Linked DNA regions of Homo sapiens: region 2 is linked to region 1. The links come from fine-mapping of genetic effects on gene expression. A gene starts in region 1. The other region holds a variant in brackets. All regions are shown on one strand. Distances are from middle to middle.

Region 1 (16,698 bases):
TTTAAGGCAGAAACTGTTTCTAACTCATCACAGATCTCTAGAGATTGGCACTGAGGAAGAACACAACAAAGATTTATTTGTTGAATGCATTTTTAAAATAGAAGAAGTTCTTACCTGCTTGCAAAGATTGAAATTAAGTATTAACATGCTTGACTTTTAGAATAAAATATTTAAGCCAATGATCATTTGATTCAGTCATTGTACAAGGCCAGTCTATTCAGCAAAAACAGAGCTTCTCATTCAACAGAGTTATCTGTTCTTATAAAAACAGTTTTCAAAGGAATTAAATATGTTATGTTTATAGTATCTGGATGAAATATTTGGGCACTGAAACTTTTACAAAGATGAGATGTTCACAAGTATCCTTGCTTTACTTTGCCAACACAGAATCCAGTAGCTGTTGCTATAGTTTTAAAAATTTATATTTTTATTTTATTGTTCATTCTTACCTATCAAGTAAGAAATAGATTGATCGTTATTCAATGGCAAAGGTCTAAAAATTATCTTCCTTTACTTTTCTTACGTAAATCATTGTGATTCTCTTGATTGATATATATTTGTTCTTAATCAAATGATACTGGAATCATGAAAAATTTTTAATTATTGGAATTCACTTATATGTTATTAATAGTAGATAAACCCTCCAAAGCTAGAAGTAAAAACACAAGTGTCAAAAGTAAATAGAAAATACAAAGAAAGAATTGTAACAGTGTATCCAAGCTTTCTTTTCATGTTTTTCTCCGATGAACCTCATGCTAATAGAATAATTAAGGATTACTCAGTTCAAATCTCTCCCTAAACTAAAAAATGTGCATTTACAGAAAGGAGCATAAAAGAAATTTCCCTTTCCATTTGCTACTTTCTCCTTCTGTGTCACTCTCTAGATTCTCTCCTACAAATAATTCATCTATACCTCTAGCTTTTATAATTCCTTGCACTGAAAGTCAAATAAGGCATAGAGGGACTCTACATTTTCAGACAATACAAGACCCATATGCTCAGAAAACTGGATAACATTTTGCAAAGACTGTATATTTAGTATTTTTGTGATTACATTTTCTGATATATTCACTGCGTATTATTACTATATATTAGGTTTTCTATTTTAATCTTATATCAAACCCTTTACCTAAATAGATTTATGACATTAAAAGCAGAAACTAGAAATTTTGCCAAACATATTTTATCATGTGTTATTTAACTCTATCTGATAAATTCAGTCACATACATAGATGTCAGAGTAAATAAATATTTCAAGAGAGATAGTTTAAGAATTATATTTTAATTATTCTTACATACATACACACATAAATTTTATGTGCTGTATTTACTTATCATTTATAAAAATGGTTAAAACTGCATGTCATTCTATTCTCTTTTGCATGTAAGCTTATATTTAACCACATTTTAGAGTTTGTTTGAGATTATTTAGAACCATTGTTTCTGACTCAGTAGAATAAGTAAAACTTAGCCAAAATTAAAACATGTTTACTAACTTTTCTGTGTTCTGCAATCACAAAAGTAAGGTTCCCCCAGCTTGGCTACTTTATCTTTCTATTAATATTTTTTGTGACTATATTTATCCTTTTAAACTCGACTGTATTAACTTTACATTCATTTCTCTCTCATATCCTGATCACCATGGGATTGACTGTCAAGAAGGTAATGAAACAAATTTACTGTTCTTGAATAACATTATTTAGGCAGTCAATCTACATATAATGTCTTATTCACCATTATAAAATCTGGACCAGGTGATATACAGAGCAAGGAAATGAGGCTATGAAGGAGAAAAAGAAAGTGTACCCAAATGCCCCCAAGAACTTTAAAGAACCTCAATCTCTTTCTGACATAATCTTATCCCCCCCTTCACAATTTATTTTATTTTATAGTCCAGTGGAAATATTCTCTGCTTTAAAATTTTTCCTCTTCCCTTCCATCTCTTGTGCATGTAGTGAAGACATCTTTAATCTCCAGATTTGACTCTGTCCCTGCTTTCTGAAAATATTTTAGTGGTTCTTTTTCACCACATGGACAAGATGAGCTACGTTCACATGACCCTCTATTTTACATGACACTGACTAATATGCCACTTTTTCTTCATTTATTAATTCATTCAATAAATATTTTAAATGCCTACAGAGGGAGAAAATATAGCAGAGTGATTTAGAACATAGGCTCAGGAGACATACAGTCTACATTTTGTAAAGAGTTAATCTGATTAATAGCTGAGTAAGCTTGAATATGCTCCCTAAGCCTTCTAAGCCTAAGTTTCTATTGATGAAATGAAATGGGAATGGGACCAATGTTATAGGCACCTATGGGGACTGAATGAGACAATCAATGTACTATATGTAGAGTAATGCTGACTACTGTGATTATACAATAAATGCAGATGATCGTGGAGGTAACAGGTTTGATTTCAAGTGGATCACTGTGAATAAGAGCCTAAAAGGGGGCAAAAATAAATAGCAAGGATGGAATTAACTTAGGCACATGTTGTGATAGATCTGGCAAGAGATGCTGTTAGTTTGGAGTAGAGTGGTAATGGAGAGAAATGAACATATTCAAGAAACGATTTGGACTTAGCATATGTAGAACTTGGTGATAGATTCGTTTTATAGGATGAGGGAGAGGAGATGTCAAGAATCATTTACAAATTTTTTATTTGTGTGATGAGATGAAGGTAGATTAAGTTTAAAGAGGATCTAGGGCAAGGGCCAGGAAGCAGAGTAGAAGATCCTGCAATTGATTTTCCACGGGTTGAATGTGATGTGTCTTTCAGTCACCCTAAGAAATGTCAAATAAGCAACTGGATATACTGGAAAGTGTAGCTGAGGAAAAATCATCAGAAGTGAAACTTCAAATCTCATGAATCCTGACATGCAATTTATTCCCCGACAACACTGGTCTTTAAAATGTCTCATAAGTTTTTTGTTGTTGTTGTTTGTTTTGTTTTGTTTTTGAGACAGAGTTTCACTCTTGTCACCCAGGCTGGAATGCAATAGCATGATATCAGCTCACTGCAACCTCCACCTCCCGAGTTCAAGTGATTCTCCTGCCTCAGCCTCACAAGGAGCTGGGTTACAGGTGCCTGCCACCACGCCCAGCTATTTTTTGTATTTTTAGTAGAGATGAGGTTTCACCATATTGGCCAGGCTGGTCTCGAACTCCTGACCTCAAGTGATCCACCCGCCTCAGCCTCACAAAGTGCTAGGACTACAGGCTTGAGCCACCACACCTGGCCTCATAAGTTTTTGTTTATACTTATATATTTTATCTTGATATTCCTTCATTTTGGAATGTCCTTCTCCCATCTTCTTTACCTGGCTACCAGGCTTACATCTTTCAGGCACAGCTGAGATTATGTTTTCTGCAGAGAGCTATGTCATAACCAGGCTAGTGAATCAACAAACTTGTTTTTCATTCCTCCTAGTTAGTTCATTGTTTTTCTTGAGGTTAAATGTGGCCCTGTAACTTAAGTTGTGGCCAGTAAACTGTGTACCACTTTCAGACCTGGCCCATAAAGAAGACTTCTACTCCCTTTTGCTCCCAGCCTGTTTGATGCAGAATCCAGCAGGCCCTAGGAGATTCTAGAGCCATAGGATGTAAGTCTCTGAAACAGCAAGTGAAAGGGGCCCTGCCAAACACATCAAATATATAGAAATGCATGAGCAAGAAAAAGTTCTACCATTTTAAACCACTGATGTTTTAGAATTCTTACAGCAATTATCTTGCCCTGAAATCTTCCTACTTTTTCATGATTATGTTAAGTGCCCCTCTGTGTTCACAAAGCCCTCTGGCATATCTGTATCATTATACTTTCCCACATGTGGTTCCATATTGGTTTATTTGCCTGTGTCTCACAAACTATAGATTTTATGTGGGCAAAGTCCATGTCTCTCTCTTCTTTGTATCCCTAGTTCCTAACATGGCCCCAGAAACCATGAGTTGGCCCTTGGTGAACATTTTTAGAATGATAAAGCGAATGAATGATTCCATTCATTCATCCAAAATTTTCGTGATGTTTCCCCTGAGACCACGTGGATGTCATAATACAAATTAAAACCTATGCAGTATGAGGGTTTCAATTCCTTACTCATTTATTGATTCCTTATTTGTATCTGTCTTCCTTACTCTGTCTCCTAATTTTCACAAATACTCTTGAGTTGTAGAAAAATTGAATTCTCTTCCAATAAATAGTTATTAAATAAATTTTTATATGTTAAAATTTTCTTTTATAACTCTTTCTTATTAAATACCTTCATTTCAGTGCTGCCTTTTTTCCACATTAATATGTATTCTTTCTTCCTTTCTATTTCAGCTAAATAAATGAGGCTTTATGTCTTTATTTTAGGTAAAACTTATCTGCTTTTAGAGCTTCAAAACTATTCCAATTAATTTTTTCAAAAAATGAACAACAAATACTTGGGTCCTACATATTGGAAACAAAAAGTACATTCTATTTTTCCTTAGCCCTGATGCCTTGCTGTTTTTTAAATTCAGCTTGGCATCTTAAAGTGCTGGGAAATAATTACAGAGATCAGAGACAGCTACCCCTCTCCTTGGCTAGGGAACAAAACATGTCAAATCACCATATGCTACCCCTACACTTCAATGCAACCTTCTGAAAACTCATAAATTTCCAACTTCAGCGTTTCTTAGCAACCACTCTAATATTTTCAGCCACAAATTGGAAGCGGGCCCCAGTGAAAGAACACAAGAAGAATTCATGGAAAGAATCTTAAAAACTACTGTGTTGTGCTCAGACAAAAAGGAAGAGTAGGCAAGCTTCCTCAAGGGATATCTGCATGTGGCAGGTGGATTCTGGTCTTCGTAATTAATGAGAGTTGTACTGTATAGCAGATGCTTGAAATATCAACAATTTCAAAGTGAAGCTTAATGCTAAACTGTCCTCATTCATATTTTTTGACATATTTATTGTTTTAGCACATTTTAAGATTATAAATGACTTAAACATTTAGATAAAAAAGAAAAACCTGGCCCCTAGATCTAACTAATATTTTTTCAGAGATGAAACGATATAATCATTTAATAGTTGTTTATCCATTTACTCATATCGGCAATAGGGTGTAAAGATGTCCAAATTTTATGAATCAGAAATTTAGACTGGCACAAGGAAGAACAGATATGCATGTTCCAGCTCTTAATTTTGCCATGCAGATTTTTCCAGCATATAGTCATGAATTCTTCCTAAAGATACTCAGTAAACCAGTGAAAATTTTGACATGAAGAAACATGGGTCTAACAATTAGCATTTGGAAATCAAAGAAGTAGGCAAAGAACATAACAACCAAAAATTAGAATTGCATGTCGAATCACCATATGCTGCCCCTACACTTCAATGGAACCTTTTAGGTCTGAATCCTAACCCACTACCTATTACTGTACTCAAGGTACTTAAACTCTTTCAGCTCTAAGATGGAGACGAATACCTTGCTGGACTGTCATAACAATTAAGTGAAACTACATGTGAAGTTCTAAACTACTATTACTTAATGACTATTATAATTACTATATTAACAACTTGTATCAGTCCTCCTAGTTATCTAACTCTTCTTTGAAAAAAAAAATGGTGCAAAAATCTATTACTCCTGGAAGTCAATGACTCTGCATTTCTGATAATGCCAGCATGGAATTCTTCCAGCAGCAGCAGAACTTGTCAGGGCATGTGTTAACCATTTATTCTTCCACATCCCCTAACAGCAGACTACTTTCTGCTGCTATTAATTGTATTCTAATATATCAAATATCTTTGGCTCATCTATTTTCCCTTTTTTTTCTCCAGAGATTCTCAGGCCACTGTAGTAATCAAACTAACCAAGTGGGTGAATAATGAACCAAAATGTCACATATCCAGCAGGAAAATGTATACAAAGTAATCTCTTCTCCTTATCCTCTGCCAAAATCCTGCTCCACTATGGACTGAATGTGCTCCCAAAGCAACACGGTAATGCCTCTATCTCTAAGTGCTTTGCCTCTGGCTCCTTTTTTCATGCCTGCAATTTTTCTATGAGAACCATCTTCCAATAGATGTTAACTTTTCTACTTATTATTACCCAGAAACCAAGAGTTTATCCTTTCAGGAACAAGGGAATACTTTTCTAGACTTCTAATACAGTTTATATTTAGTTTGAAGCTTTTCTCTGAGAACTTTATAACTCAACTGAATATATTCTGTTAGTGACTAACACCAAAGATTTAGGATATAATATTTTTTAACTTTAATATCTTTTCACACGAATTTCATTTGATCCTTCAAAGCGCCCTGCAAATTAGACTAAACAGGTACTATTTGCACTCAGAGAAAGTGAGGCTAAAATGACTTACCCAAGGCTATGAAGAATGTTAAAGGTCTGACTTGGAGCTGTCTATCAGTCCAGTGTCCTTTCTAAAATATAATCATAAATTTTCTTAGCAAAATAGTATCTCATCTATAAAGGACAGAGAAGTTTCACAGCATGCCTGTAATGTTTCACATATTGAGAGTTTTGTTTTGTATATAGGTTCTAATAGTTTGACTTTCTTTGTAATCTCAAGTTGTGTGTAAAAATAGTGAACTGAGTGCACCAGACAAATGCTGATTTTAGTTGTTGTCATAAGAACTATATACTGTTTAAAATAATTGTGATGAATAACATGACCTTATATTTATACATTTTAATAATTTTTTTAGAATACTTTTACAATCATTATTATATCATTTGAAAAATCACTACAATATTGTGAGGAAGGTGAAACAATGATCACTCCCATGGGAAACGTTTCTTCCATAAATCTATGTTAAAGGAATAATCGGAAACGAGTGAACTCTTCATTTTTTATCAGGAGGTTGACTATTATACTGGACCTATTTCTTCTTGAGGTCGAGTCTTGTGACTTGGTGTTAAAGATTCTTGTAAAGATTCTACTACCTCATGCTCCATTTTAGCTTAAACATTGTCATCACCTAAATCAGGCATTTAGCACTGATTTTACTTCATGACGGTGTGCAAGCCATTGAACCAAGAGAAATGTGTAGGTCTGGCTTCTGTAACCTAGGAACTTACATTTTAACTAGAATACATTGAGGCAGGCATATGAGTGAAACACACACACACACACACACACACACACGAATAAAATGTATTTAAAACAATGAAAATTTGAGATTACAGATAACAAATGATTCTATTTAGGGCTAAAGATAAATACAGCAGTCCTCCGCACTCACATTTTCTGAGGTTTCACTTACCCATGGTCAACCATAATTGAAAATATTAAATGAAAAGTTGCATAAATAAACAATTCATAACTTTTAAATTGTGTGCTGTTCTGTGTAATGCAATGAAATCTCACACTATCCCATTGTTAAGGCTTTTTCACTCCCGTAGTTCGGTGAGCAGGAGGAAGTAGCACCCAACGGCTTCTTCTCTACCGTTGTTTGGGGAGTTGGAGGGAGTGTTACAGCTCTTTTAACTCCCACCACCCGCTGCTCAGCAAGCAGGAGCACTACACCTCTTTTGCTCCCGCAATTTCGGGGAGTTCCAGGTTCCTGTCCTGTAACCAGAAGGAATAAGGTATGTGGATACCAGAGAATGAGTAAGGCAGAGTAGAATTTTACTGAGCAACACAAAGAAAGTTCTCAGCACTGTGAGGGGATGTGAAAATGAATAGCCATCTATGAGGTTGAGTCTAGGGTTCTTACACACTTAGAATGGGGAAGTGCATGCTGATTGGTCCATGGGTGGTCTTGGAACAAGCACCATTTGATTGGTTGAAAAGCATCATTCAGAAGGAACCAATAAAGAGAGAGGGGGTAAGAAGGGGATACAAGTTCTTACTCTGGTCATGAATTTTATTCGGAACTGTCAGCTCGGGTTTGGTTGGTTGAAAAGCATCATTCAGAAGGAACCAATAAAGAGAGAGGGGGTAAGAAGGGGATATAAGTTCTTACTGTGGTCATGAATTTTATTCGGAACTGTCAGCTCGGGTTTTCAGGCTATAAGCTCTTCTTGGCTTGAAGGTCAGATTTCATCTGAGACCTGTCTCTGTCTGCCTAGGAATTTTCTGTCTGCCTAGGAATTTTTCTGTCTCCTGTCGCTATCACCACTCTGTCCTGCCTGGGACATGAGTCTTCCCTTTACCCAGCATATCCTCACTGTCTACACTACCCACCTATTAGTCACTTAGTAGCAGTTTAGGTTATCAGATCAACTGTAGTGGTATTGCAGAGCTTGTGTTCAAATAACCCTTATTTTACTTTATAGTAGCCTCAAAGCACAAGAGTAGTGATGCTGCATATTGTTATAATTATTCTATTTTATTATTTGTTATTGTTGCTAATCTCTTACTGTGTCTAATTTATAAAGTAAACTCTATCACAAGTATATAATGCATAGAAAAAAACATAATATATATAAGATTCAGTACTAGTTGTGGTTTCAAGCATCCAACAGGGGTCTAGGAACATATTCCCTGCAGATAAGGGTACTGTATTTTCATGTGGAATCCTGAAAAGTTAGAAGCCCAATGGCCTATAAATCACCAACAATAGTTAACATACAAAAGTTGAGGGTAAGCTGTGTTCAGACCTTGCAAAGTGCAGTTGTCAGACCTCTAAATAATTTGGGAAGAGTTTGAAAGGGGAAAAAGTAGGGACTATTTAAATAAATACTTAAATAAAAATAGAGAAGCTAAAGGAAGGAAAAAGTAGAGGAAACTAGAGTAAGAATAAGCTGCTGGGATAATTCTAAAAAAATGAAAAAGGATCTTGGCAGATTCTCTCTCTCCAGAAAAAATAGCAATTCGAGATGAAAATTATTAAAAAATAATGTAACATCTGGAAATTGTCCTAGAAACACCAGAAAAAAATGCATAAAAATTCATTCAAGAAAAACTATTTAATTTTTTTAAGAACAAGTAGAGTCTGTGGAATTCTAGCCAAGATTCTTTAATTACCAACCTCCGTTTCCCAACTTCACATTACAAGAGCTCTACCCCAGGCACGTGCAGTCAAGAAGACAGGGATCTCTCTGTCTCAGGAAGAGCAGGCTGCTAGCATTTCTCCTCCTACCTCCACAAGCTCTATTCTAGGAAGGTATGTGGTGAAGAAGACCTGGGACTTTCTTCCCCTATTTCACCCCCGCTCATAGTGTGGAAGTCCTATTTCAAGTAAAGAAGGCGGATGATACTGGGGCCCAGCACACTGGTAGCATGGAGGTTCTGTACCAAGCAGGGCAAGCTAAGACAATCAAGAGCTGCCCCTTACACACTCTAGTGCCAACTAGTAAGTAGACTAGGGATGTCACTCTGGGAGAAACAGATTTCTGCCCCCAACTGTGGTGCAGTCGCACAATGGTTCTGCCCAGGTAGAAAGGCAGGTAATAAGGATGAGGAGTTCTTCAGCTCTGCCTGAGGGGACTGGCTTTATTTGTAACAGTGGATGGAGATCTCTATGCATGGGAGTGTTGCCAGAAACAATAGCTATCTTTGTGGAAAGCAATTACAAGGAGGCAGTAACTCTGAAACAAGTAAAGTTGCAGAGAAACCAGAAGTTCAATAAAAAGAACCAAGAAAAGAGATAGCCAAGAAGGGTTGCTCTGTGATTATCATCAGCTCTAAGGGTGGAAAGGCTTTCTCCTTGCACTATGCTGCATCCACTCAGGAAGCAAGCAGAACAGAATGTGAGTCAGGCTTAAAAACATTTCCCAAACCACAGATAGACCCATCAGCATAGGATGGAAGTCTAAATGGCACCAGGAACTAACAAGGTTAAATTATACCAGGCTCTTCTGATCCTAGAAAACAGCAATAAATACCAAAAGGAGGGTAGTTAAAGAAATTCATCACACTTTATGTTCTGGAAATGGCTTGCTGCAAAGAAGTACCCTTTCTCATGTGACTTAGATAGGACTCACGGATGGCCCTCTTGTGTACCTACAAGACCAGATACAAACATTCTAAATTCTTATTCTTTGCCTCATATATATTTGCTGAACTGTTTGTCCCCATAATCAATCAGAACCAAATACTTGTAAGCAAACTTTAGATTTCTCTCCTTCCTACAGATCTCTGAATTTTACTCTCAGCCTCAGCCGGCATGCAACCTTTCCTAAATTTCTCCTCTTGAAAATAAACTGACATCAGGATAAAACATTCTCTGATCTGTTATCCCATCATGCCTCCCTTTCTTCTTACATCTGAACATCCTGTTCTTTCTAGCCTTGTTTACTCCTCTCTACAAAAGAATAACTCTTTTCACATAATCCTTAAGATGTTTGCTATGGTTGTTTTATTCTCTGTATTGCAATAGTCCCTTCTTCCCCTTTGCAATAATCCGTCAAAAAAGTCTCTCCTTACCTAAATTTGGATTTTTAAAAATTAAAAAAAAAATGACAGTGCTTAAACATAACTTCTGACCAGATACCGAGTGAACAAAGATCTTCTCTGATCTAGGAAATATACCTGGGAAGTCAAGATTTAAAATAATATCACAGTCATCTGAGAGTCTGGAAGACTATGCTTCCCAGAAGAAATCAGGGAGAAAAACCTCCAAGCTGAAGACAGGACAAAATAAAATGAAATAAAATAAAATATCTGAACTGATATAATAGACTTTATGCTACACATGTATTTAAAAGAGTAATAGGTAAAATTCTAACCAACTGGGGGTCGTAAACACAATTTTAATCAATAAACAGGCTGTCAAACCAGAGGCTTCTCCCAGAGAGCCAGGATAAAAGATAAGCAAAAAGGAAAAAATTAACAATTCTAGCAGATACATCAGAGGCTGTACATGGCAGAGGAAAAAGGCTTTACAGAATTTATTAAAATAAGTCCCTAGATAAATGACTATGCAAAAAACAAAAACAACACTCCTAAGAAAGTCAGTATACAATGTTATACCAATATATTATCTAAAATGTATAGTTATCAACAAAACATTAGGAAATATGCAAGGAAATAGGAAAATATGACCCATCCCACTTGGGGGAAAAGCAGCAGGCATTAAAAATTGCCTTTACAGAAAATTAGGTGGTAGGCTTAGGAGACAAAAATTTCAAATTGTCTATCATAAATATGTCCAAAGAACTAAAGGAAACCATGTTTAAAGAATTTAAAAGATATTTAAAGACAACACGTTATCAAATACAGAATGCTAATGAAGAGATATAAATTATTGAAAATAAAAGAAAATTCTGGAGTTGAAAAGTACAAGTGAAATGAAAACTTCACTAGCGGGGCTGAAAAGCAGATGTGAACTGGTGGAAGGAAGCATAAATAAATTTGAAGAGAGATACATGGAGATGATGAAATCTGAAGGAAAGAGAAGAAAATAAAGAAAAATGAACACACTCTGAGAGAAATAAGGAACACTATTAAATACACCAATGTAGTAATGGGAATACAAAACAACAGGAAAAAAAATTTGAAGAAATAATGGCTGAAAACTTTCCAAATTATTGGAAATATTATAGTACACATTAAAGAAACTCAATGAACTTCAAGTAGGATAAATTCAAAGAAATCTAGAGAGAGACACCTTATAATTGAAATGTTGAAAGACAAAGAGAAAGAGAAAATCTTGGAAGCCGCAAGAGAAAAATTACTTATGTACAAGGGAACTGTAGTAAGATTAACTTTGGACTTCTTATCAAAAACAATAGATACCAAAGGCAGTTGGATGACATATTCAAAGTGCAGAAAAAAAATGGCTGTCAAGAATCTTACATTCAGCAAAATATCTTTCAAAAATGAAGGTGAGAAAAAGATATTCCCAAATAATCAACAACTGAGAGAATTGGTTGCTAACAGACCTTCCTTACAGGAAATACTAAATGTAGTTCCTCAGGCTGAAAGCACTCAGCAACAGATAGTAATTCAGATCTAGATGTATTAAGAAAAAGAGTATCAGTAAAGGTAATTATGTAAGTAATTATAAAGGACACTATAACTGCATATTTCTTCACCTTTGTCCCCTTGACTAATTTAAGAATTAATTGCAAAAATCAATGTGTATAAAATTGAAAAGGTTTTTAAAAATATAACTAGCAGAATAATACTCCTTCCAAAATGTCCACATCTTGATCCCTAGAACCTGAGAATACCTTACTTTACATGGATAAAGAGATTTTGCAAGTGTGATTAAAATAAAAAATCTTCAGACAAGATTATCCTGGATTACTCAGATCTAAGATGAATCTTGAAATGTAGAGACCATTTCTTGAGTTGAAATCATTTAGACATCAGTGTGATGATGGAAGAAAAGTCATAGGGATGCAATGTAAAAAGAACTTGATCTGCCAAGACTGGCTTCAAAGATGGAGTAAGAGAACCATCAGCAGGTGTGGACATCCCCTAGAAGCTGGAAAATGGAAAGGAACTTCTTCTCCCCTAAAGCCTACAGAAAGGAACACAGCCCTTGATCTTTCCCAATGAGACTCCATCTCAGATGTGTTACCTAAAGAACTGTAAGATAAAAATTGTTTTAAGCTACTAAATTTGTGATAAAGTTATGGCAACAATGTACAACTATTAAAAGCAAAGAGATCCAGTCAGAATATGCAAATATATAGAAGTAAAAGATTAATAGTTGCATAGGGCTTGAGTAAGTGTGGAATAATGAGTGCTAATGGAGTTTCTTTTAGGGGACACAAAAATATTTTAAAATCAGATTGGGGTAATTTTTACACAGCCCTGTGACAAACTCAAAATCACTGAATTGTACAATTTAAATGGGTGAATTGGATAGTATGTGAATAATACATCAACAAAGCTATTTCTGAAAGAATATGATACTGCTTTGAGAATTGGGCATGTTTCTTTTGACTAAAAGAGAGAGATCACCTGTTTCTAAATGAAATAAAAAAATGTTATTTATCGGAAAAAATGGGGCATTTTACTGAAATAAGTAATGGGATGTATAACTATGACTTAGTGAAGGAAAGAAGGACAAAACCTCTGGAATTTTGATGAGGAAGATTAGAGATATTTTCCAGGTGCTACTCCAGCCTTTTCAGGCTCTGTGCCCTTGCATTTTCATAAGATAATATGCATTGGGCCAAGTGGTCAAGGAGATTTTCCTCTGGAAGTAGAATCATTTGACTTTGATTTTTTTTAAAACCACTTCCCCACTAAACTAGGAATACAGGGAGGCTTCTTCCCTTAAAGAGTATCTACAACAAACCTACACTAACATCATATTTAATGGTGAGAAACTCAAAGATTCCCTACTAAAATAAAGGCAAGAAAGTCCCCTGTCACCACTGCTCTTCAGCATCACTGACAATTCTAGCTAATAAAATAAGACAAAAAAATAAACAAAAGGTATACAGATGGGTAAGTATAAAATGAAACCGTCTTTATTCACAGGTGACATGATTATCTATGTAGAAAAGCCAAAAGAATCGACAAAAAAAAATCTCCAGGAACTAATTGCTTAATTATAGCAAGTTGTTTAGAATACAAGGTTAATATACAAAAGTCAAATGCTTTCTTATATACCAGCAATGAACAAGTAAAATTTGAAATTACAAACACAATATTATTTGCATTAGCACCCCAAAAATAAATACTTAGGTGTAAATCTAACAAAATATGTACAAGATCTGTGTAAGGAAAACTACAAAATTCTCATAAAAGAAACCAAAGAAGAATTCAATAAATGGAGAGATGTCCCATATTAATGAACAGGAAAGATCAATATTGTCAAGATGCTTGTTTTTCCCAACTTGATCTATAGATCTGATGTAGTTCCAGTCCAAACCTCAGCAAGTTACTTTGTGGATATTGACCAGTTAATTCTGAAGTTTACATAGAGAAGTAAAAGAGGCAGGATATCCAACACTGTATTGAAGAACAAAGTTGGAAGACTTACATTACCTTTCTTCAAAACTTACTATGAAGCAACAATAATAAAGACAGTGTGGGCCGGGCGCAGTGGCTCACGCCTGTAATCCCAGCACTTTGGGAGGCCGAGGTGGGCAGATCATGAGGTCAGGAGATCGAGACCATCTTGGCTAACATGGTGAAACCCCGTCTCTACTAAATATACAAAAACTTAGCCGGGCATGGTGGTGGGCGCCTGTAGTCCCAGCTACTTGGGAGGCTGAGGCAGGACAATGGTGTGAACCCGGGAGGTGGAGCTTGCAGTGAGCCAAGATCATGCCACTGCACTCCAGCCTGGGCGATGAGCGAGACTCCATCTCAAAAAATAAATAAATAAATAAATTAAATTAAAAAGACAATGTGGCATTAGTGAAAAAATAAACAGATCAATGGAACAGAATAGAGAGAGCCCGGTGACAGATCCACATAAATAAAGTCAACCAATCTTAGAGACAGAGAAGGAAAGGCAATACAATAGAAAAAAAGATAGTTTTTCAACAAATAGTGCTGAAATAACTGGACATCATATTCAAAAAATAAATCTAGGCCCAGATTTTAAACACTTCCTTAAAATTAATTCAATATAGATCCCAGACCTAAATGTGAAACACAAAACCATAAAACTCCTAGAAAAATAGCACAGGAAAACTATAGATGACATTGTACTTAGCAATGACTTTTAGAAATAATAACATCGAAGGCACAATCCATGAAAGAAAGAATTAATAAACTCTATGAAAGACACTGTCAAGAGAATGAAAAGACAAATCACAGATTGGAAGAAAATATTTGCAAAAGACGTCATATAAAGAATTGCTATTAAAATACAAAACAAATTCTTATAATTCAGCAATAAGATAACAAACAAGCAGTTTTAAAATTGAGCCAAAGACCTTAACAGACACTTCATCAAAGAAGATATATAGATGGCAAATAAATATGAAAAGATGTTCTACTTCATATGTCACGAGAGAAATACAAATACAAATTACAGCAACAATGAGATAACACTACACATCTCTTAGAATGGCCAAAATTCAGCATACTGACAATATCAAATGCTGAGAAGGATGGGGAGCAATAGGAACTACCATTCATTGCTGGTGGGAATGCAAAATGGTAAAGCCACTTCAGAAAACAGTTTGGCAATTTCTCAAAAAATAAATAAATAAATAAAATAAACAAACACACTGTTATTATACAATTCAGAAATCACGTTCCTTGTTTTTTTCTCCCAAAATGAATATATATGTACACACAAAAGCCTGCATATGGATTTGTATAACAGCTTTATTCATAATTGCTAAGATTTGATAGGAACCAAGATGTTCTTCAGTAAGTGAATGGATAAACTAAGGTATATTCAGATAATGGACTATTATTCAGCACTAGAAAAAAAAATTAACTATCAAGCCATGAAAAGGTATGGAGGAAACCTAAATTCATGTTACTAATTGAAAGAAACTAGTCTGTAAAGGCTACTTACTATATGGTTTCAAGTATATCACATTTTGGAAAAGGCAAAAATGTCTAAAAATATATCAGTAGCTGTTAGGACTTAGAGGGGAAGACAGATGAATAGGCAGAACACAGAGGATTTTTAGGGCAATGGAAATACCCTGTATAATACTATACTGGTAGATACTTGTCTTATACTTTGGTCCAGATCCATAGAATGTACAATACCAAGAGTGACCCCCTAATGCAAACTATGGTCTTGGAATCTGGGTGGTAATTATGTGTCAATGTAGGTTCATAAATTGTAACAAATGTACCACTCTGGTGGAGATATTGATAATGAGGGAGGCTATGCCTCTGTGAAGGCAAAGAGTATATGAGAAATTCTGTACTGTGCACTATTCTGCTATAAACATAAAACTAATCTGAAAAATTAAGTCTGTTAAAGAATTTCACCATAAAACCACTTTTCTTAATGTTAAATTTTTCTAACAATCATTTACCAAATCTTATTTAGAAAATAGCTTTAGCTGGACACGGTGGCTGATGCCTGTAATCCCGGCACTTTGGGAGACTGAGGAGGGCAGATCACAAGGTCAAGAGATCAAGACCATCCTGGTCAACATGGTGAAACCCAGTCTCTACTAAAAATACAAAAATTAGCTGGGCTTGATGGCACGCACCTGTAGTCCCAGCTACCCAGGAAGCTGAGGCAGGAAAATCACTTGAACCCAGGAAGTGAAGGTTACAGTGAGAAGAGATGGCACCACTGCACTCTAGCCCAGTGACAGACCCAGAATCTATCTCAAAAAAAAAAAAAAAAAAAATTGCTTTAACTTGTTCACCAATAAGCATGTAATCAATTTGTTTGCCTGTGGCCAGCCAAATTTATTCTATAATAGTTTTTCTTTGCTCTGGATCCGTGGCTTTTGGGGAATAAAATCTTCTTTAGTTTTTGAAAGTTCAGGTATTTTACTTCTCTCAAGTGTAAAAGATTTTATTAACAACAGGACAGGTTTCTCTCAGCATGAGTGCCTATTATTTGTTTTCTTTTAACAGGAATTCCTGCAAAAAGTAATAAACTAAAAGAAAACCTAAAGGGTATAAATGTAAAATTAAGTCCTTTTACTCTCTCCAGTTGAACTACCTAGAGAAAACCATTTTAAATCACAATTTCAGAAGATTTTAAAAATTCAACTCTACCTAAAGACATCATAAAATGGCTCATTATTCCATCATCCAGGTAACTACCATTATTATTTTAAATGAATTCAAAAATATATGTACCTGACCATAAAATTACACTAAAAGCAATTTTAGTATTATTTTATCTATTTCATGATTTTCCTC
Region 2 (16,698 bases), 110 kb after region 1:
CCAAGTCTAATTTTCTAACCACCTTGGAAAAACAAGATGTTCTATGAGGGATGACATTCGAGAGCATAGTGAGAATTAAATAACAGTTTGCAGCTGTGGAGGATTGGGATTCCTAGATGTTCCTATATATAGTGAATAGTGAATTGAAAGAAGTTTATCCCTGGTCAGAGTATACTGGAAAGAACTTCCAGCAGATATTTGGAGAAAAGAGATCCAATCTGAGGACAGGGTTTGCAAAGTCATCGTCATGCCAAGAGGTTTGCTCCACAGTAATCACAGTAATAGGGCTGTCACATGGTAAGGCAAGTTGCCAATGCTTCTTTAGAAGTTGTCAAAACATTTCAGCTTCTCAACAACTTTCTCACTAAATCCTTGTGAGAATTAGTGTAAAGTATTATTTTATAAAAGTTCTGAAAACACAAAATACTTCAATGGCAAATTTTACTTTACATTCTAAGCATTCCCCACTGAGGCTCATTTAAGGTGCATACAGGGGTTTGTTCATCTCTGGCCAACCCCAAATGTTACACCGGATGGAAGGAAGGAAGGAAGGAAGGAAGGAAGGAAGGGAGGGAGGGAGGGAGGATCAGCATGCAATGTTAGACATAGCACTGCCCTTTTCTTGACTGGTATAAAATATAATAATAAATCATATCAATCGCTAACAGAGAATTCCTAAAGGAGTAAATGATGGAAAGATGAAACAAAATAAGTATCTTGGAAGCCAGAAGTATTCTGAATATTTGAGAAGGGTTGGGTCTGGGCATGAAGAAAATCCTTAGATAGCTGTAGATTTGACCATGGCAGGACAATCTCTCTTCACCAAGGAGTCACAAGGGTCTTTGGTGCCTCGTGGGGAATACGGGCGGAGAATAGTCCAAATATTCAACATGAACCACGGACACTATGGCTCTGGGAGCCTCACTAATTCACAATTAATATTGCAAAAGCCAAAAGCCGATGCTACAAAGCAAAGAGCTCTATACTCTGCAGGGTGTGGGTGTGCACAGGCACCATGAGTTCACATAAGTGTACATAAGCAGAAGGATCCATCTTGTTTTGTCACATTTTGTGTATGATACTTAGTAACTTTGGATAGCTCTCTCCTTATTACAAAAATAGAAAAATGCTTGAGCAATTTTGGAAAAGTACACAAAAATCACACTAAAAAAAGAAACGAAATTCACTTATAATGCCACAAACAAGAAATATTTAGTATTACTATTGTGGTATATATCTTTGAAGATTTGTTGCATTGGGATTATACTATGCGTAATATTTTATACACTACTTATTCACATATTAATGTGCCCTGAGTATTATTATATGTTACGAAGCACATATTTCCTTTTGCCATGAGTCATTAATGCCTAAAAGTATTTCCATCATATAGATATAAGGTTTTTAATAATATCTTGTGGCTGTAACTATGGGTTACTTTTATTTTGTTTTATGTTTGCTATAAAGTATTAATTCTCTAATTCACACTCATGGTTATTTCCTTAGGGCAAATTCTGGAAGAAAAATTACTAGGTCAAAAAAATGATCATATAAAATATTTTTATATATTCACAGATTGTTCTACACATATGTTGCCTCACTTTTACTTCCCATTTAATTAATTAATTAATTATTCTCAGAGAAAGAGTCTCATTCTGTCATCCTGGCTGGAGTGCAGGGGTAGCCTCAAGCAATTCTCCCACATCAACCTCTTAGTAGCTGGGATTACAGTGTGAGCCACCGTTCCCTCTTTAATTTTTAAGTCTTATTTACCTAACTGTTTCCAACACTGGCTATCATTTTTTCCTCAAGATTTCACATTTCAAAATGTAAAATATATGTATTTGTATTTTTATTTTCTTTACTCAATTGTGAGAATAATCAACTCACATTCTTTTTTTTATTTTGTATTATTTTATTGGTTTATTTCCTAACTACTTTTGCTATTTATGTTTTTATATTAATTTTTTAAAATTATTTCCTGTATGGCCTCTTTATTTAAAAAGAATATTCACTCTTTTATGTTTGGGGAAAAAACTGTATTAAGAACATTTAATATGAGATATACCCTTTCAACTATTTTTAAGTGTACAATACAATATTGTTAACTATAGGTATAATGTTGTATAACAGATCTCTCAATCTTATTAATCTTGTATAACTGAAACTTAAGCTTTTAAACTTTCATTTATGATATGTTGAGATGCAAAAGTTTTGCATTTTTATGTAGGCAAATGTACCAGTTACCATTGTTTTGGCTTATTGTAAGTTATGATTTAACATAAAGATCTAGTTTATTATCAGGTAATAATGTTTGCAGCGTTTCTATTTAAACCGTGATTTTACTACTGGTTTGAAACTTTATCATATACCAAATTCTGATGGCAATGAAGCCTGTTTCTGACATTTTTATATAGTCCCATTAATTTGACTGTTGGGATTTGGTGATAGTGGCATTCTGCTTTGATTATCATGGTACTATTTTATTTCTATTTATTTTTGAAACAGAGTCTCATTCTGTCACTTAGGCTGGAGTGCAGTGGCACAATCTTAAATCACTGCAATCTCCACCTCCTGGGTTCAAGTGATTCTTCTGCCTCAGCCTTCAGAGTAGCTGGAACTACAGGCACCCGCTACCACACTGGCTACTTTTTGTATTTTCAGTAGAGACGGGAATTCAGCATGTTGGCTAAGTGAGTCACAAACTCATAACCTCAAGTGATCCACCCGCCTTGGCCTCCCTAAGTGCTGGGATTACAAGCAGGAGCCACTGCATCCAGTCTTGGCACTATTTTAATATTAAGTGCTGGTGGTGCCCCCATGCCTTTCTCTTCTTTTATAAAAAAGAAATGTATATCATTCACCTTTTTTTTTGTTCTTCCATTAAACTTCTGTATGACTTGAAGTTCCAAAAAGTTCTTGGGAGGTATGTAATAAAATTGAAGCATATTTTTTAATTAATAGAATAAAACTGAAATATTTACAATATTCATACCCATCCTGGAATCCTATGTGTTATTTAATCAAGCCTTTTGTTATGTCTCAAATTATCTGTGTTAGCTTTATTTATATACCTCCTAAACACTTCTTGCTCATTTTTTTAGTCCTTGATTAATATGGTTTGGCTGTGTCCTCACCCAAATCTCATGTCAAATTGCAATCCCCACGTGTCCAGAGAGCGACCTGGTGGGCAGTGATTCAGTCATGTGGGCGGTTCCCCCATGTTGTTCTCATGATAGTGAGTGAGTTCCCATGAGATCTGATGGTATAAAAGTGGTACTTCCCCCTTCGCTCTCCCTCTCTCTCTGTCTCTCTCTCTCTCCTGCTGCCATGAAAGATGTGCCTTGCTTCTCCTTCAGCTTCCGCCATGATTGTAAGTTTCCTGAGGCCTCCCCAGCCATGTGAATCTGTGAGTCAATTCAACCTCTTTTCTTCATAAATTATCCATTCTCAGGTAGTATCTTTATAGCAGTGTGAGAACAGACTAATACACTGATCATCAAGAAAATGTTTTTGACAGCTTTCCATTAACTGGCAATGTGTTACTTTATTCCTGGATAGTTTAAAATTTTGCTGCTAATGTGAATGAAAACTGTTGTATAAAGAATGATTGCTGATAAATAATATAGCTCTTTATTTTTTTCATATATATTTTATAAATATTCAATGTCTTGTTAATTCTAATCACTTTGAGTTATTTATACTTACCTGGACAAAGAATCACATTATCTACAAATAATGAAAATTTTGCACCATCCGTTTCAGTGTTTTTACTTCAAATTAGTTTATTTATAATATTTGGTTACAAATCCCATAATAGAATTAAGAAGTACATATTAGTAAGCCTAGAATTAACCATAATTATTTCTAGCCCTAAGACCCACTTTTGTTCCTTATTTTGTGTACATGTTTTCTCTATTTTAATTGATTTTTAATTATGAAGCTTTGTCTATTTTGATAGATTTTTTATAAAAGCAATTTTTCATATTAATCTATCACTTATATGTACGTTTCTCAAGTAACTCAATTCTGCCTTTACCTTAGTATTTATGCCTATGTTCTTCTTAATTTTGATTTTCTGGACATTTCAGAAGATATTTTGAATAGAACCATAAAATACCAGCCTGCTTGGTGCAAACAACTTTATCAAGTTCCTTTCTGTGCTGGACATTACACTGGTAGCTCCTACTGAATCATGTCTCCCCACATTCATGCCTTGGGTAGTTCTCTCCCATATAAATTCTAGGCTTGGACAGAGGGCTTGCCTTGGCCATGGATGACCAGATATGAAGTCAGCAGAGGATTGGTAAGCATTTGGAGGTTATTCCCTTGGAAGCCAGGCTCCGTATTGTAAAGAATTGTAGGCTCTTTTCCTGCAGATAAAGTGTATGTGGAAAGACCCAGAAGGACAAGATGCCACATGGAGAACCAAGGTGCCCTGGCCAAGCTCCTGGCCTTACACAGGCACCTGAGTGACCCCCAGATGGCAAGACATGAAGAAAGAAAACATGCAATAACCTACAGCATCATGAGAAATAATAAATATCATTTTTATGGCACTGAGTCTTGGAAATGTTTGCTACGCAACTGAAGAAAACGGAGAAGTTTTCTGTTTAAACTTGGTTTGATTCAATGACTTTTCTATTTAGCCAAGCTTCAGAGAAAGCTATCGAGCAGAAAGATATTTAATTCCCCATGTATCAAATATGCTAACTCACAAATAAGGCAGGAATGGCTCTAACCAAATGTGGATTCAAATAACATTCTTTTCTCTTTTTTCCCCCAACAATAATGAGTTATTGCCTCATTTCAGTATCCTTTTTTCAGTGCTTCAATAGAAACTTAGGGGATGATTTATCAGCTATAAACAGTCTCAAAGTTCTTGTATGTCATTTCTAAATCAGATCTGTTTTTGAAAATTCAAGCTGTCACATGTAACCATTGACTGACGGTGATTAATTCATTATGACTTACAAACTTTTTAAATAAATAAAAAATGTGTGTGTGTATCTTCTCCTCAGAAAAATATAACTACATGAAGAAACAAATTATCACACAAAATTTCAGCAGTTTCATGAATCATCTGAAGCAAATTCATGGACTTATTAAAGATAATATGTAGTAAATTTGGAACACATTTTAGCCAACTAATCTGTTCTAAGATAAAAGCTTCTTGGGAAAAATACAAATAAATAAAATAAATAAAACAGAGCTGCCGTAGTTGAAGCAAAGGCAGAGCTTGAAAACCCACGCTTTGCCTCCAGTCCTTCTTTTACCAGCCCTCACATCACACCTCTCCACAGAACAGCTTGTTAATCACTTCTTTAAAATGACATGATAAATTTATACACATAGAGAAAAAGAAAGACAAAGTGAGGGAACTGGAGTCAGAAAAGTGCTAACCTAAGCTAAGAGTAGATATATAATAGAACAAAGGAAGATGGGATTCAGGCAAGTAAGGTACAAGAAAATAACAGATCAATCAATGTGGACGGAGGTTCAACATGAGACACCGAATGATCTGCTGCTTTGAAATAAGTTGGATGACCATATATCCCAGTGTGTCAAGAACAGACCAGGTTTATGCCTGTGGCCCAGTTGTAATTATTAAAAGCTCCCCCTTTTACTCTCAAAAAGATTCCAGTGCAGGAGATAAAGTATATGTTCCTCCAAAGAGGGCCCCAGTTCTCACCACGTTTGTTTGTGGGCACAGCAGTATTGAGATGTACTTGTTTATCCTAAAGTAGGGACTTTCCATCTTAATCAGTCCCTGCAGTACCAGCAACCCAAGAAAAGAGCCACCAGTGTGATGAATACATGTACTTAAATAAGCAAAAAAGGCCGGGCGCGGTGGCTCACGCCTGTAATCCCAGCACTTTGGGAGGCCAAGGCGGGCGGATCACTAAGTCAGGAGATGGAGACCATCCTGGCTAACACGATGAAACCCCGTCTCTACTAAAAATACAAAAAATTAGCCAGGCATGGGGGCGGGCGCCTGTAGTCTCAGCTTCTCGGGAGGCTGAGGCAGGAGAATGGCGTGAACCCGGGAGGCAGAGCTTGCGGTGAACCGAGATCGCGCCACTGCACTCCAGCCTGGGCGACAGAGTGAGACTCCGTCTCAAAAAAAAAAAAAAAAAAGCAAAAAAGAAGTATTAAATCAAGAGAAGAATTCTTGCTAAATTGACAAAGTTTTCAAAAATTATTGCTTTCTCAATGTTAAGTTACCACAGCAGTTTAATGGAAATGCTTTACCTTAGATAGAGGAAAAAACAAATTATGTTTCACATTCACCTTTTCTTCCACACAAGTGAATTGAAAGTTCTAAAGCCTTAAAATATATCACCATTTTAAGTTCCACCCTATAGGATTATATCTTCACACTTTGGTTCTTTTTTCAATTAATGGTCCATTTGTGGAATGCATATGTAGTTATTTCAGTTCTATATGGCTCATTAGAGGGCCTTCTCAGTGACGTGTTTCATTCCTCTTGGTCTAATATGAACGTATTCACTAGGAATATACTATAGAATAACTAATAAAGCAATTTTTGAACATTTAAGAAGAAGTAATAAAGCACAACTTATCTTCCTTAAAAATAATTTAATCTGTTGTGGCTGTTTTAAAGATTTGAAATCAGGAGAAAATCCTTTACAAGTAGCTTTTATTATAACCTGGAACCTGACACCTCATTCAAATGTGCATATTAATGTATAATATATATCAGAGTGACTCCAGTGGGAAGAATAAATGTGTTAGATCGTGCAAGTATAAAGAATGTAAGAATAAACATGAAAACTGTCAGTGGGTCAGATAAGAGGAACCTCCATTCTATTTATCCTTTCCTGAGTAATTTCCAAGTTTGCATAAAACCATGGTCCCATTTAAACAGTGGAGCTGATTATGATTTAATCTGACTTGTGGATAAAATCCTTTGTAAATGTGTTGCTCTTGCTATTCTATTCAATTATGTTTTACTTGTCCTTTTCTATTGCTTCAAGGAGGGTCCAGATTGCACCTTCTTGATTAAGAAGCAATTTCTTCAGCAAAACTCTACTACTTCAGAAATAGTGACAGTTTTACATTGAGAAACAAAACCCTGAATTTTTCATTGACAAGAAAAACCAAATTTTTTTTCTGTAGGAATGTGAGTTATTGCTAATATTATCAACTATTCCTATAGAATATATCAGAAATAATTCATGTAAATAAAGTATTAGATGAACAAGTTTACAAGTCAAAAAATAGATTTTTTTATCTTCTGCTGACTTAAAAGGAAATCAACAGTAATTAACAAGAAAATATTGAATAGAAAAATAAATATTCTAGATGCAACCTATAAATGTGAATTATGACATACATGAAAAGCAAGACTAAGTACTTTGTTCATTGATAAATTGTGAGACTTCATTTGATCACCCGCACGATCACTTACAAGGACATACTTCAACTGTTTACTAAGATCTAGAGCTCCCCTTCACTGCTTTAGACCAAAAACATGTCATTTGTGGGGTAAGTTCCCTCAAATTCACATACATGCTATTGGATCCAGCTCTATTTTAATCTAGTTACATACCATATTTAACATTCAAGTTCAAAAACCATATAGGCAACAGTAAATAAAGCCTTCACTTGCAATGCTAACAATCTTTTGAGGAAACACCATTTTCAATTTATCTCTTACTGGTGTATTTCCACTGAGCTAAGATACACATATTTAAATGAATATTTGGGTATTGATGGCTCTCTTGTTTTCAATATTGCTCAACTCATACGTAATTGAAAGACAGACATCAGACATGCATAAAAAATACTCTTAGCCATATATTATGATTATATATAACTGTAATAACAAAATCTCAAAATATATTGAGTTCCATGCTTTTTATAAACTATACATCCAAACTTGACTTCAAAAGGACTGAAATAGAGTCTAAATAAATGACATAAAACATTTTAATAAGGAACATTTAAATTTGGTTAAATTAGATTAGGTCTCTAATTGTCAGGATGGAGAGTTATAAAGTCCATATAAGACGGAGGCAAATCGGCCATTTAAGACCTTTCTCATTCTTTTGAATCTGTAAGCCTGTGAGTTCTTTCTGTCTCACCTCCCCCATCTCTTCCTTCAGCAGCTGTTTACAGTAGGCACCCAGTCTTAAACAGGCTGGCCTGTTATGAATAAATCATACTCCCAGAAATGCATTACATGACTCTTGTATGGAATCATACGTATTAAATATTTAAGATGTTTATATTCTTTTCTAGAAAGAAGGCCAATTCACGGATATAAGGGTTGAATTACTTCTTGAAATGGGGTCATTCCTATCATTAGCCACCTGAGACAACTCAGACAACTCAGACAACAATGCAATGGAAAGGGCCTTTGTTAAAATGTTAAGATACTACATACTAAGTTACTTCGCTTGTAGAAGCAGGAAGAGAGTGGCAAAAAATAAAAAGGAAAAGAGGCAAAGAAAAGGATAGGAAATGAAAGAAAAAAAGTAAGGAAAGAAAAGAAAAAGGAAAGGAAAGAAAGAAAGAAAAAAGGGAAAGTAAAGAGAAAAGGGAAAGAAAAAAGAAGAAAGAAATGGGAGAGAAGAAAGGAAGGAAAATAGAAAAGGAAAGGAAAGAAAACTGAAGGGGAGATGGGGGAGGGGCGATTAAAAAAGAAAACAGAAAAGTGAAGGGAGGTGAGGGGAGGGAAGGGAAGGGACGGGAGAGAAAGGAAGGGGTTGGAAGAGATGGGATGAAGAATTTGGCTTTGGAGTGGAACAAACAGGATACCTCCTGTGGCTTCATTGTCTGCAAGCTGTGCGACGTCTGAAAGCTTCCTTTTTATATAAAATGTGCCTACCAAATGGGTATATAGCTACTAACAACCAAACTTACCCTTGTTAAGTTATTAATATTAAATGAGGTAATACAATTGTGATATTTAACATTGATCCCACCAGAGAAAGTCTCAAGGTGATTCTATTTAAGTGTCCCAAGTAGAGAGATATAGCTAGGGAGCACAG[G/A]TTTGAATCCTAACATTTTTTACTTACAAATGTCATGGGGATTTGCACCAGGCAGAGTCAGGGAGGGCAAGAATAAATACTCAAACAGGAGCAAAGCAAGTCTTTGGGCAAGGTCAGGTATGTTTCCTACTGGGCAAAAACCCCATAGGACCCTGAAGGATGAAGAAGTGAGGTCCTTAAAGACACTGACAGGAGGAACTGCTAGGACAGATTCTAGGTGGATGCAGTCCATGCAAAGTGTGTGCTCAACTGAAGGTGGGGCAGTTTGCAATGTCTCAGTTCCTGTGTGGAGCCAGGAAACCCAACAATGACTCTACATTGATCATTTGCAAGTCCTCACGTTTGGCTCTTCCCAGACACCAGCCTTTCCTTCCTGGGAAACTTTCCTGAGATCAGCTATTAGAGAATATGCTCTTTCTGAAAATCATCTTTTTTATCTGTCCTTTTTATTTCTTCTTATCCTCAAGTCTTCTTTTTTTATTTCTTTTTAATTTCAGGGTTTATTTCAGATACAGGTGGTACATGTGCAAGTTTATTACATGGGAATACTGTGTGATGCTGAGGTTTGGGGTATAGGTCCCATCACCCAAGTAGTGAGCATAGTACCCAGTAGGTAGTTTTACAAGCCATGCCCCCCTCCCTCCTTCTCCCTTTTAGCAGTCCACAGTGTCCATGTGTACTGTTGTTCCCATGTTCATGTCCATGTGAGTTCATTGTTTAGTTCCCACTTATAAGTGAGAACAAAAGTTATTTGGTTTTCTGTTCCTCCTGCATTAATTCACTTAGGATTATGGCCTTCAACTGCATCCATGTTGCAGCCAAGAACATGATTTCATTCTCTTTTATGGCTGTATAGTATTCAATGGCATATACATATCACATTTTCTTTAGTCAATCTATCATTGATGGGCACCTGAGTTAATTCTATGTCTTTGCTATTGGGCATAGCAAATAGTGCTGTGATGAACAGATGAGTGCATGTGTCTTTTTAGTAAAATAATTTATTTTCCTTTGGCTACATATCCAGGGATGAGGATTGCTGGGTCAAATGGTAGCTCTGTTTCCTTCTCTAGGTATATGTGAGAAAATATTTTCTTCTGCCAAAGAAATGTACTATCTTCTGTCTCTTCAGAAAACCTCTTCTCTTTTCTAATATCTAAGCAAACCCTTTTCTCTTCTTATATCCTTTAATGATAGTGATTAGTGGCTTTTAAAAATTGAGGATGTAAATGAAGGAAAATAAATTTCCTTTGGCTTAATCTTCAAATCCAACTAGATAGTGAGGTGAAGAAGTCATATTATTTTAATGCAATCAAAAAAAAGATGGGGAGAAAAAAATTAAACACCTATATCCTGCTACTTATTTAGAGAATTCCCCATGGTACCTGTAAATTTATTAAGCATTCAAAAAATATTAAAATATTAGGTAATAATTCCATGTTTGTGAACTCAAGCCTCGTTTCACTGGGCTGTCATGTAGAATAGAGTAGTGCTTAAAGATTTGAAGAGTAAGTCTTGGGTAAGTGAACAATGTTAATTTCAAATTACTATTGTTCATAAGTAAATACATGTTTCTCTGTATGTTTGCATATCTTTTATCTCTCCATCTGCTCCATATCCACTGTAACAAAGTGAACCACACTTCAAACATTACAGTGTAATTGTAAGAACTAAAAGTGTCCTTGAGTCCTTCACATAGAGTGGTAGAGACAATGATAATTCAGGATTTTAAAACCTGCACAGGGCAAATGAAACATAGCAACCTCAAGTAGGGACTGCTAGAGTCCCTGTAACCTGTGCTTTGACTCTATGCATTTGTTTCTTAGCCAAAATCAAAGAGATGCCACTAAGACAACTTACCAAAGCCTTTGATATTGTTTGGCTGTGTCCCCACCCAAATCTCATCTTGAATTGTAGCTCCCATAATTCCTATGCGTTGTGGGAGATACCGGTGGGAGATGATTTAATCATGGGGTCGGTTTCCCCTATACTGTTCTCCTGGTAGTGAGTAAGTCTCATAAGATCTGATAGTTTTATAAGGAGAAACCCTTTTCACTTGGCTCTCATTCTCTCTTGTCTGCCACCATGTAAGAAGTGCCTTTCGCCTTCTGCCATGATTGTGAGGCCTCCCCAGACACGTGGAACTGCGAATCCATTAAACCTCTTTTTCTTTATAAATTACCCAGTCTCAGGTATGTCTTTATCAGCAGTGTGAAAACGTACTAATACAGCCTTGCATCAACAAATGGCAAGTTTGGGGAAAATCTTTGTGTCTCCAAGATACTATTCCTCTAAATATCTAAACCCATTTGTATGGGGAAGGCATCAATTACATGATTCCTACTTTCTTCCTACTTTCTGTGCTTCCTAGATTTTCAAGGCTTCTTTTTTTTTTTTTTTTTTTTTTTGACCCTCAGAGGCTTGAACCGCTAATGCTCTGTGTCTCTACTAGTGGCTGAAGCCAATTTGCTGTAAATTTCATTTCTCCTACCATATCATCTTAGATGAATTTTCCTAGATTTGAAAAGCTTCATCATCTTACAAAGCTGTATTATTTTCTGTCCCACCTATTGCATCCTTCTGGAATGTCAATATCCAGAAGAAAAGAACTAGTTTTGAGAAACCACTGACAACTTGGTCTGTGAAAATTTTGGCTGATTAAGAATTCTGCTTCTCCCTATCTCTCATATAATTTCTGTTGCTTTCCATTAACTCTCATTCCTTACTTAGTCCACATTTGTTTCCGCAACAGGAGTTAGTCCTGACATAAATGTCTCACTAATAAAAGAGATGTGACAGAGCTGACAGCTCTTTGGTTTATATTTATGCTTTCTTCTCTCAAGTGGTTTAGTTGTGTCTGAAAATACTTCTCCAAAACCTAAAACTCACACCTATAGTCTGAATGCCTGGGAACACTTGAAAAATATATGAAAATTAAAATCTAAAATATATGATCCATAGATTAATGCTTAACCAGTTTTCTATATAAACTTATTACAAATATTTTTATTGACTTATTTTTTTAACAATTTATTGATAAAAGTATTCCCTTTTTATTCACCATGAATCCTACCTTTGTATAAGTGCTCTCCTACATTTTAACAGAGTTACCTTGGCTTCAGGAACCTGTGGCTTTATGTCCCTTTCACAGATATTTTTCTGTCAATAAATATACCTTGTGGGTGTTCTTTAAGCTCTATGATGTTGCTATTCTAAGAGAGATTAAGAATATGAATATGCAATTATAAAGATGGTTATAGGTAAAGGCAAGTATCATAAAGAAAACCAAAAAGACTAAGAATATATTAGAAGGCAACAGTGGCTCAAGAGAAGCAAGGTGCAAAAACATGGTGGGGGAAGGTCTCCCTTAGGTGCTGAAATTAAAGCTGCAGCATTAATTTGGAGGACATAGCCATGCAAATATGCAGAAGAATAGATTTCAAGGCAGAAAGAAGGCTTTGAGGAGGAAAGGAGTTTGTCCTATTCCAGGGCAACTGAGTCACAGTGCGTGAAAAGGAAAGTAGTAAAACATTACATGGATGAAGGCAAGGAGCCTAGTTAGGAGACTAAATAAATATTCCATGAGAAAGGATGGTGATGGGCTCAGATCACAGCTGTGGAGATGTCAGGAAGTATCTATAATAGAGTCAGGGTCTCTTCTAGAGGTAGAGCTGATAGCACTCCCTAGTGGATTAAATTTGGAATGCAAGAGAATGAGAGGTGTCAAAAATGACGACTAGATTTTGCACCAAATAGGTGGATGGATTATAGCACCATTTACTGACATGAGAAAAGCATATTTGGGGGTGAAAAACAAAAATCTCTTTGGTTTTGCAACATTTTGATATTTGAGACACCTGGTAGACATCTAAGTGAAGGCTGCCAGGAAAACAAATCTGAGCTATGAAGGCAGTAAAGAATAAGATGAGCTGGCTGTTGTCTCTCTGCTGCAAGCACCCCTTTCTGTACCTGGCTCTGTGAGGCCAGGACTAGTTTTCTATACATTACATTTTCCATATGCCCTTGCATTCTGGCTTTCATTTAGGTTTTATTTTTTATTTGAAGGAGATTGGAAAGAAAAATAAAGGTATGAGGGACTATTTTCATGTTTTCTAGTTGCTGCTAGCATTATTCTAGCAGCAGCATAATAGTGGCCTCCAGCTTCAAGCTTCTTCTGCAATAGAAACATCGCTCTGCTTCCTCACATCCCTCGGGGGTACCCAAGACCCCAGGCCTCACTCTTTTGGAGCCAGAGCACCAGCCACTTGCCTGCGTCCCTGGGAGCTGCAAGCATGCACGAGGCCACACTTCCACCTCAGAGGCCCGAGCATCAGCCCTGCAGGGACCATTCTTTCAATCTCCCAGTTTCTCGTAGCATACCCTCTTTTCTAAGGGTAGTTGTTCCTTCCTACAGTTACAAATTTATGGGATACCACAGCTTTCTCTCTATACTCTTTGAGCCCTATAATATATTTGTACACAATTCCATAAATTAGGTCATCTGTATTTGAAATTCTAAATGTAGTTTTTGTTTTCTCGACAAGACCCTGGCAGATCCATGAGATAGATGTTAGATTATATTGATGATAGATACGGTAGATGAGAGAGATGAGAGAGAGTGAGAGAGATTAGATAGATAGATAGATAGATAGATAGATAGATAGACAGACTTTTTTTTTCCTTTCTCTCAACACTGATTGTCTATCATCCCTGAATTGGCTGCTTAAACTAATCAGAAAGAGAGTCTTAGATTACCACTCTTGGATCACAGCTAGGAAACATACTAACAACAAATTATCTCTATTACCTATTCACATCTCCTTCTTTTAATACTTTTTTCTTGTTCATCAATGAGTATATATCAAAACAGCTTACTGTTAAGCTGGAAAATTATTCTTCCCTTGCAAGAAAGTTTCTCTGACATTTTATATCTGCAATTTTGGATGCAGAGGAGAAGACACAGAACTCACTTAAATAATTAATTAAAGATGTCTTAAGTGATGCAACTTACCCATAAGAAAAATATAATATTTAAATAACTATACCCATAGCAGTGCCTCATTTGTCTTCATTTGTCACTGAAAATGCAAGATCTGGGAGGAAATAATATTTGGCATATTTAAATAATTTTCAAGTTCCACTTAAGAAACCATTACAATCATCATTAGTGTAATATAAAATTTAAAGCTACATAAACATACAACACATGCCACAGTAGAAAATATAAAGAATGCACAATCAAATTATAAATGATAAATTTAAAATAATTTTTTCAGGATCTAATCATTAAAATAATCCTGAAGCATGATTTTTTACTTTTGTCTTCCAGCTGATTTATGTACATATACACAAACACACACATACATATACACATAAAAAGGGAAGTTAAAGTTCTTTTACAACACATTTTTGTTTTTATTGTTAACATTCTCTACCCTATAGGATTATGCTCAGCAAACCATAAAGTACAATCAGGATATACTTAAGTTTTTAAAAATTATCACCATACTTCTCCCCTTTTGATGAGGGATTGAGTAAAGAGTTTGGCAATTTGACAGTCACAAACAATTGTCATAAAAACACAGATGTTACCAAACATTAGTGCTGCAAAATCATTTTTTATTAGTATCACTTGCAGCCCTATGAGTGATATCACTTCCTAGTAAGCAAATATTTTTCAGTTAATCCCGTATTGGATCATACCTCTGTCAATGTTTGTAGTGAAGGTAAGCAGTTAGTTTTTGGCCCCAGGACATGCTGTTAGAAATAAAATGTGCATCTTCCACTGTGCCTTGGGGAAGGGTTTAGATATTGGTACATTTTTACATAGTCTTCCCCACGTTGGCACAGAAAGCATCATCTTTTCTTCTTTGGCAGCTCTGGGGTAACATATAAAGCTGGTTGGTACCGAGCTATGGAATGCCAACTGAAGACACCTCAAAAAATTGTTCTGAAGCATAATTCATTTCCTTTGGAAATAAGGATTATCAGTTCTTCCAAAACGTGATTTAATTATGCGCTTACATAAAATGTCATCATCCTAGTACACTTGACATTTTGATACATATTCTGTTCCTGTCATCTATATCAATGACAAATGACAGAATAAAGGCCTAGTCAAAAATTATATCATCCAAGAAATTTTATATAATCGTGGGCAATTAGAATTTGTAAAACATTTAAATGAATTTAGTTTTTCTTTTAAAAATCAGTCAGCTCATAAGAAAGCTTAAACAAGCACTCAATACTAAACCTATCAATCAAGAGACATGGTTGAGAACCAGGCACTAGGCTGAGTCATGGCACCAGCACTACCTTGCCTTTGACCTTGGATGAGCACCTCATCCTCCCACAGATTTCTTCATCACTAGAGGACAAAAAGTAGAAGCTTTCTAAAATTATTCCAAGCAACAAATTCATAGTCTCTTAATATTTTGAAAGTATCCATACTTCTAGATGCTGTAAGAGATCTAGACATAGGTTTTTAACCTGAGACACATATAGTCTATTTTTGTAAGACAGGGAAAACATTTAGGGCAAAATAAAAGGCAATTAAGAAACACTTACTAGGTTATTTACCAGAGACCCTGTGGCAGCTAACTAGCATTATAGGAACAGGAGAAAAGGAGAGGTAATTAATGGAAATCTCTGTTTAAGTTTAATAAGAATATCCATATTATCTTCAGGTTGACTACAACCTACTTTCCTTAGAAAACCTACCATCCAATGGAATTATATACAAAGGAATATATATTTATTGTATACTTTCTATATACCTAATTAACAATGTATTTTACCACATGATTTTCCATTACTATTTCATTCCATCACTGTTGGCTCTTCTTCCAAGCTTTGAATCTCTAAACTCTTTGGAATTCTTTTTAATCATTGGTCCAGGAAGTCACTCAATGTTACCCAGCAACAGAGTGGGATAGGGAAAGCTAGAATGCAGGTTTGCTGACTATTAGTTCAATTCTTCGCTATGCCAATTGCTTCAATTACAGCACTCTCCTGGGTGAGCTCCCTCTCAGCAGTGCATCCTGCACACACTGCCAGAAAAAGTTTTATATCACGCTCTTCTAAAGACCCCATTAGACTATACTAAGCAACACAGGCAGTAGGAAACCTTAGAAATCATCTAGTCCTATTTCTCTATACCACCCACAGACATACCCTTTAGCAACTTCAGAATGATCTGGTCCAGTGCTGCAAGGTGATTACTTAGTGCAGTAATAATGCATATCTTACCTTACCTGATTAAAGCAAACCCTGGGTACCCTTAAAACACATACATATTGGTTTTCTGTTTCATGAGCCTCTCCAAAGGATGGATATCATATCTTTAAACTTCAGCATTCCCAACCATGACTCCTAGAATTCTCTCCAGCCTAGTGAACTGACAACCAAGATATATTATGTTTTATTTACCTATTGCCTGGCTTTCTGCCCTGTCCCTTTTGCAATATATACATTCAGTCTTGAATAGAGTTCCACATTTGCAAATGCTTTTGCTATATCTCAAGTCCTTTCTCTCCTTGGCCTGATGTTCTAGCCTACCTTCTGGCTTTTTTCATGTGTGTGTATGTGTGTTTTCTAGAATAAGTAAAACTTGGCTTTGGTCTCAAGTCTAGAAATTTTAACTACATAGCTACTCCAGAACCTTTATCTTTCCATATCTAAC

Which allele goes with the higher level. Alleles are on the strand shown, and positions count from the first base shown. SD is a standard deviation of normalised expression in the study named.
With allele G in place of A in region 2, the expression in testis of the gene that starts at base 7,836 in region 1 is higher (large effect, 1.0 SD a copy in GTEx).

Evidence for each region. PIP is the estimated chance that this variant, and not a neighbour inherited with it, causes the effect.
Region 2: its variant is fine-mapped to the expression of LINC02839 in testis (GTEx, PIP above 0.99).

The regions. Positions count from the first base shown.
Region 1 is chr8:82,151,651-82,168,348 of GRCh38, reverse strand. LINC02839 (long intergenic non-protein coding RNA 2839) reads left to right here and starts at 7,836. Exons shown (of 3, transcript NR_183481.1): 1 at 7,836-7,932; 2 at 16,487-16,591. LOC105375930 (a long non-coding RNA gene) reads right to left here and starts at 7,580. Exons shown (of 4, transcript XR_929113.2): 1 at 7,256-7,580; 2 at 6,352-6,412.
Region 2 is chr8:82,037,959-82,054,656 of GRCh38, reverse strand. No RefSeq gene overlaps it. Among named protein-coding and RNA genes, the nearest start is that of LINC02839, 110 kb to the left of the region's middle. The variant G/A (reference allele first, on the strand shown) is at 9,018.